Linked DNA regions of Homo sapiens. The protein of the gene in region 2 purifies or fractionates together with the protein of the main gene of each other region. This does not show direct contact. Each region holds a gene or a part of one and is shown on either strand. Other genes may lie near its edges.

What was found. Proteins that work in one complex are often made in the same cells at the same time.
Region 1: the proteins of ZDHHC19 (region 2) and PIGR purify together in Homo sapiens (affinity purification with mass spectrometry; one large-scale study listed by BioGRID and IntAct). This does not show direct contact.

The regions. Positions count from the first base shown.
Region 1 is NC_000001.11:206,939,819-206,943,466, reverse strand, and holds part of PIGR (polymeric immunoglobulin receptor precursor), read left to right. Parts: intron 1-2,882; 5' UTR 2,883-2,935; coding exon 2,936-2,978; intron 2,979-3,648.
Region 2 is NC_000003.12:196,209,262-196,213,009, reverse strand, and holds the start of ZDHHC19 (palmitoyltransferase ZDHHC19), read left to right. Parts: upstream 1-1,609; 5' UTR 1,610-1,694; coding exon 1,695-1,840; intron 1,841-2,272; coding exon 2,273-2,394; intron 2,395-3,494; coding exon 3,495-3,634; intron 3,635-3,748. UniProt on the Homo sapiens protein: Palmitoyltransferase that mediates palmitoylation oproteins, such as RRAS and SQSTM1. Catalyzes palmitoylation of RRAS, leading to increased cell viability.

The DNA of each region.
Region 1 (3,648 bases), on a different chromosome or scaffold from region 2:
CATCCTAGCCTCAGCAGTGAAAAAACAACTGCTAGTTTAAGGACCAGAAAACGTGCCCTCATGCATGATATAATATCATATATATAAAACCCAATAAAGCAGGTCCCTTTGCTCATTTAAAGAGTGATAATGGGGTAGTGACCTCAAATTAGGATTCTGCTGTGGGTCTTGGGGTCGAGAATCCCTATAACCCTTAGATTTCCAACCTGTGTCATGAGGATAACAACATCTATCTCTTGGGTTGTTGTGCTGATGGATGAAGTCTTACAAGAAAAGAACCTAGCAAAGCATTTGGCACGTAGCAGGTGCCCAACATTATGTTCTTTTTCTTCCTTCCTTAAGCAAATCCTTTAAATCCAGCCCCAGCCACCCTGGGCTGGGGAGGTCTCCCGAGATTTGAATCCCCAGGTTTGGAAGAAAGTCTCTGGTTTTGAGAGGAAGGGGTCTGTAATGATTCTGAAAGCTCGAGGTCCTTTCAAATGCTACTAGAGAAATTGTGCTTCAAGTTTTAGCTTTGGGCAAAGAAGAGCTCCTGTTCCTGAAAGCAGGGGTATCCTCTCCTGCCAATCATCCCATCTAGGACTGGACTGTGTGCATCCCGCTGATGTTGCCATCTGCCCGACCTGCCTGTGCATGCCTGATGCTCTCATCCCTGGCTTGAGACCATGCAGAGGGTAATGGGTGCACACACATGTCCCCTCTCTACACAAACATGCACAGCCACCCAAACATGTCACAAAATGAGAAGTCTGGGACAGAGGTCAGGGTGGTCTTCACCTTGGAGAAGCTGGCATCTGACTCTCTGCAACCCAGGCCAAGTCCAGAGGAGGGCTGCATCCCCCAGCTCAGCTTGTGGGAAGACCACTCCTGTCTCACGCAAATATGAGGCAGCTTGCTTATCTAGAGGTGAGGACAGGAACAAGAAGCAAGGACAGCTGCTGCTGGTGTGGGTTCTTAAAAGCAGGCAGCATTTTGTCCTCCCACCTGTGACTGCACCCACCCTGTGCCAGCACAAGTAGAAAATGGTAGATCTCCCAGGACTTTGCAGCCAGCCCATCCCAACTGTTTCTGAGACTTCCTGGCCTCCTGAAAGCTGCTCCCACCTGGGAGCATCTCCCATGGCAGCTTGCAGTGCCCACGCAGGTGATGACATCCCAGCTAGTGTCCCCTGATTGCTTCCATGTTGGAGCTGACTGGTATTTGGCCAAGGCCCCACTCCAGGCATTAATCATTGACCTGGTAAGAAAGGTCTGGGGCAATTAACCGGACTCAAGAGAGCCTCAACGTTGCCATCTGACACCCATATTTGTTCCCACTCCCTCCCTTTATTCTTCCAAAGAACTGCAGAAACAAAATACCTTTATATTCACAAGGAAATAAAAGGTTCCTTGCTGGGAAATTCCCCTGCAACAAAGAAATAACCAAGATAAACAACTCTATTGCCTTTGGCTCAAGCTGGTGAAGGGAGTCTGGGAGCAGGAGCAGGGGCCAGGGTGGTGAGGGAGGTCTGGGAGATAACGCCCAGCTTCCTCCTGCTTACAGCGTCCTTATCTTTATGGGCACTCATTACTGCCCAAACTTACGATCATTTAACACTCTCTTTGTCAAGACAACTCCAAAGTTTAAAGTCTGTCAAAGTCTGGGAAAGTGGAGACTTCTGTCTCCTCCTCTAGGCTGTAGTTGGGGTCTTGATGACAGCTGCTGTCAGGCAGACCCCTGGGACCCTCAACTCTCCTCAGCCCTGGGCTGTGTCCACGGTGGAGACAAAGTCCACACAGGCTGCTCCGTCTGAGTGGTCTCATCTTCGATTCTTCATCTTTGTCTGCCAGGCCTTACCAGGCAGGATTACAAAGACCCTAACACCTAAGCTTTTAACCCCAATTCCATAACCAAGTTGCTGGGAAAACGTAAGCCTATCATTCAGCATCTCAAGACCTCAATGTTTTATCCATAAAATGGTTGTGATTATACCCGTCTGTCTTATTTCAAGGGAACATATAAAGCTCAAATGAAATAATGTAAATGGTAGTGCTTTCATAAGCAACAGGGTCTCTACAAATAACACAAATAAGCATAAGGTAAAAGCATGCTCTTGTATTTGGGGTGCGATACAGTAGTGGAGAGGTTAAGCACATGGACTTTGCAGTCAGACAAAGGTGGGCCCAAATCTTCCCCGACCCCCATTCTGTGTACCCCCACACATTTAACCCCATGTGCCCTTGAGGAAAGTACTTAACCTTGAAGCCTTCATTTCCTCCCATGTGAATGTGGATAAGGATACTAACCTCACAGGGCTGATATCAAGTCTGTATGAGATAGTACACATAAATTATTCAACACAGTGCCTGAGACAGAATAAGGGAGCAATCAATGGGGTTAGGACCATCATCATTACATTTACAGCCTTAATAATCATGACACCTCCTCTGTGGGTCTCAGTTTCCTCATCTGAACACACTGTGAAATATGTCAGCCCGCTTCACCTCCCAGGAATGTAGGGAGGGCAGCTGAAACAGAGAGATGGGGGCCACGTATTGGTAGGAACCAATCACCCAGCAAGCCATTCCTGAGATCTTACGGTGTGCCTGGGACTGTGTCTCATGGGCAGGGAAACAGAGCAAATGACACAATATCTCTATCCCAAAGGAGCTTGCAGCTTAGTTGAGAAGACAAAAGCTACTTCTAGCTATTAAGGATATACAAGTGTTGAAGGATGATAAGACTTTGAATTGTTATGGAAAAAGTGGAGGCACTGATTCATTCAACAGGATTTATGTCAGTTGCTGGAGATACAAAGCCAAATAGATGTCACAGAAACTCTAAGGTCAACTAGTCTTGGAAGACAAGGGGCGCTTCATCTCCTTGTGATTATTGTTTTTCAGCATTGCACAGGAGAAGTCGGCCTGAGTGGTGCGGCGCTCGGGACCCACCAGCAATGCTGCTCTTCGTGCTCACCTGCCTGCTGGCGGTCTTCCCAGGTGTGTCTGCCAGGCCCCAACTCTCCAAGCTCCACCCCTTCAGCCTGCCCGACTCCAGGGTTCACCTCCCTGGGGACACTAAAATCAGACTCATCCCCAGGGATGTCCCTCTCAAAGTTGGCACTTCCTTGAGGAAGAGTCATACAGAGAAGACACTGAAAGGCCACATCTGTGAGCATTGGAAGTCAGGGACAGGAATGGCACTTCCTAATCTCAAGGCCAGGGGTCTGTGAAAGATCTTCTTTGAGAATAACAAAGACCTTAACTTCAACCAAGCATCTCTATGACCCGCTGTGAAATCTGAGGGAAGTCACTTATCCTTTCTGGCTCTCAATATTTTTATCTGGGGGAAAAAAAAGAAAAGAAAATCATCTACAAAGTGCTTTTAGAAATATAAGGAAATAACACATGGCAAGTGCAAACATGTAACACCTTACGAAAGTGGTGTTATTGTTTGAAAAAACAATGGATGGCTGGATGCTGGCTCACAGCTGTAATGCCAGCACTTTGGGAGGCCAAGGAGGGTGGATTGCTTGAGGTCAGTAGCTCAAGACCAGCCTGGCCAACATGGAGAAACCTTGTCTCTACTAAATAGAAACCAAAATTAGCTAGCATGCACCTGTAGTCCCAACTACTTGGGAGGCTGAGGCATGAGAATCGCTTGAACCTG
Region 2 (3,748 bases):
TTTCACTCTTGTTTCCCAGGCTGGAGTGCAATGGTGAGATCTCGGCTCACTGCAACCTCCGCCTCCCAGGTTCAAGCGATTCTCGTGCCTCAGGCTCCCGAGTAGCTGGGATTACAGGTGCGCACCACCACACCTGGCTAATTTTTGTATTTTTAGTAGAGATGTTGCAGGAAACTGAGGACTGGCAAGACTGAGACAGAGAACGAGAGGACTGTTTATTTCAGGTACGCACTGGCTTAGTGGACTGTCATCTAAAAAGCTGAGCATCGAACAAAGACAGAGCGGGGTTTTTATAAGCAGACTTCCAATAAATAAAAGTAGTTAATCATATGACAGGTCACATCATCTATAGCATAACTTGTGGCCTTGCATAGCTGGTGACTTTGTAGCTGCATTGAAAGAAAAACAAGAACTGGCTAAATACAGACATTTGTAAAACATAATCATGCTTAAGAAACCTGGGAAAGGAGTAACAGTCAAAGAATTTGTCTTTCTTTTTTTTCTTCAACTTTGCTCTGGAGGCGAGGGGTGTCTGGAGCTTATTCTTTTGGCCTTGGCCTCTTAAACAGCGTTATCTTATAACTGTCCTTGAAGTGAGCTTGCTGGGCAGAGGAAAACTTGTTCTTTTCTTTTTAACTTTTGCCTTGCTTGTTACTTGTCTTGGAGTGAATGAATGCATATTTATTTTTAAATTTCTGCCTCAGTTTCTTCTTTTTGAGGCCTTTTATAAAGGAAGTTTAATATGGCTCATGCTTGTAATCCCAGCACTTTAGGAGGCTGAGGTGGGTGGATCACCTGTGGTCAGGAGTTCGAGACCAGCCTGGCCAACATGACTAAACCCCGTCTCTACTACAAAATACAAAATGAGCCGGGCATGGTGATGCATGCCTGTAATCCCAGCTACTTGGGAGGCTGAGGCAGGAGAACCGCTTGAACCCAGGAGGCAGAGGTTGCAGTGAGCCGAGATTGCGCCATTACACTCCAGCCTGGGCAACAAGAGCGAAACTATCTCAAAAACAAACAAACAAACAAAACAAACCAACAAAAAAACCCAGCAACTTTCTTTCTTTTTTTTTTTTTTTTTTTGAGATGGAGTTTACTCTGCCACCCAGGTTGGAGTGCAATGGCGCGATCTTGGCTCGCTGCAACGTCCACCTTCCAGGTTCAAGTGATTCTCCTGCCTCAGCCTTCTGAGTAGCTGGGACTACAGGCGTGCACCACCACTCCTGGCTAGTTTTGTATGTTTAGTGGAGATGGGGTTTCACCATGTTGGCCAGGCTGGTCTCGAACTCCTGACCTCGAGTGATCTGCCTGCCTCGGTCTCCCACAGTGCTGGGATTACAGGGATTACAGCGCCGGCTGAAAATTACCAACTTTCTTCCCATGTGTTTCTCCAGGTCATATTTTCTCCAACAACATCAGCCTCTCAGGGGCAGGAACTCCCGGTTCCCCAGCACATGTCGGGGTGGGGGTGGGGTTTGCTGTTGGAAGTGCCTGTCACCGGAGGCAGCTAGAGCAGGGCTGCAGACAGTTCTGCTGAGGTCCCCCAGCCTCTGTGATGTCACACTGGGCCTTCTTTCCTTTCACCCTGGGCTGCGGCTCTGAGGCTGCCGTGGCCATGGAGCTCTGGAAGCTGGGCTGGGGGAGGAAGCCTGGTGGCTCTGACCTCCCCTGGAGGCGAAGGAGGCCCAGCCATGACACTCTTAACGGATGCCACGCCGCTGGTGAAGGAGCCCCATCCCCTGCCTCTGGTCCCACGTCCCTGGTTCCTCCCTAGCCTCTTTGCTGCCTTCAATGTGGTGCTGCTGGTCTTTTTCAGTGGCCTCTTCTTCGCATTCCCGTGAGTTTTCCAGGCAAGCCGTTAGGTTTCCCACAAAGAGACAGCCAGGGAAACAGAAGATGATAGGATGGAGGCAGGGGAGTGCAGAAGACCGGGGGAGAGGTCAGGGAAAAGGGGATATTCTGTTCGAGGGAACCGACGTGCAAAGGTGCAGAGGTCAAGGGTGCGGGCAGGGAAAAGGGGATATTCTGTTCCAGGAACCGACGTGCAAAGGCGCAGAGGTCAAGGGTGCCTGTGCATTTTGGGAGCTTTGGGTGGCTGGTCATGCTGGTGACATTTGGTGGAGCCATTATGAGTCTGCCTGGGTATTTGGAGCCTGGATTTTTAGATCTGGCTTGAAGGTCTGTGGGTCCTGACCTGAGCAAGCCACAGGCCTTGGGCCGGGGGCTTTGGGCTGCCCCTGCTCAGGACCGAGCCTGCCTCTGGTCTCAGTTGCAGGTGGCTGGCTCAGAACGGGGAGTGGGCCTTTCCTGTTATCACAGGCTCCCTCTTTGTCCTTACCTTCTTCAGTCTTGTTTCACTCAACTTCTCAGACCCTGGCATCTTACATCAAGGTGAGGCATCAGCCCCCTGGGAAAAGGAGGTGTCACTCAAGGGCTGGGAACCTGCAGGGGGGATTCCTAAAGTGCTCTTCCTACTGACCCTCCTCCAGCCTCTGGACCCCTTCACCCCACGTCTTCATTGCTCTGGCCCTCGCTCACTCTTTCTTCTCTTCTCTTTTCTTTCTTTCTTTCTCTTTCTTTCTTTCCTTCCTTCCTCTCTCTCTCCCTCTTTCTTTCCTTCCTTCCTCTCTCTTTCCTTCCTTCCTTCTTTCTTTCTTTCTCTTTTCTTTCTTTCTTTCTTTCCTTCTTTCCTTTCTTCCTCTCTCTTTCCTTCCTTCCTTCTTTCTTTCTTTCTTTCTCTTTTCTTTCTTTCTTTTTCTTTCTTTCTTTCCTTCTTTCCTTTCTTCTTTCTTTCTCTCTTTCCTTTTCTTTTTGTTGAGACAGAGTCTCGCTTTGCTGCCCAGGCGGGAGTGCAGTGGCGCAATCTCCGCTCACTGCAAGCTCCACCTCCCAGGTTCAAGCGATTCGTCTGCCTCAGCCTCCCAAGTAGCTGGGGCTACAGGAGCATGCTACCACGCCCAGCTAATTTTTTGTATTTTTAGTAGAGATGGGGTTTCACCATATTGGCCAGGCTGGTCTCGAACTCCTGACCTCATGATCAGCCCACCTCGGCCTCCCAAAGTGCTGGGATTACAGGCGTGAGCCCCCGCGCCCGGCCCTACCCCGTTTCTTAAGCCACCAAGGTGTGGAAAAACAGAATTGTTGAGGTTTCCCAGTTGCCTTAGATGGGAGGACCGGGCAGGCCAGGGCCAGAAGCCAGTGGGCTCTTCCAAACCACTGTATGCACTTCCTCCCTTCACTACACAATGACACTCAAAGCAGCACTCACTGTTCCAAACGCCTGAGTTTCATACAAAACTCTCCTGGCTGGAAACCCGTCTTCCCTTTGACTGCCATCCTCTCTGAGCTTGGACAGCTTGCTCAGTGGGGACAGGGGTTCCCCTGCCCACCTTGTCCCCACCCTTCCTTGTGCCCTGTGATGCCGTGGAGCTGCCCCCGCCGCGGGGTGACCGCAGGGCCTTCTGCTGTGCCCAATCCTCTTCCCACGCCAGGCTCCGCTGAGCAGGGCCCCTTGACGGTGCACGTGGTGTGGGTGAACCACGGGGCCTTCCGCCTGCAATGGTGTCCAAAGTGCTGCTTCCACCGCCCGCCCCGGACTTACCACTGCCCCTGGTGCAACATCTGTGTGGAGGTGAGTGCCCCTCTACCTGTCCACCAGCCATCGCCCCACATCTGGCTGGGACCAGGAGCCTCCCTCATACAGGGGCCAGGGCTGGGTGTGAAGCTGTTTTCAGGACTGCTAAAG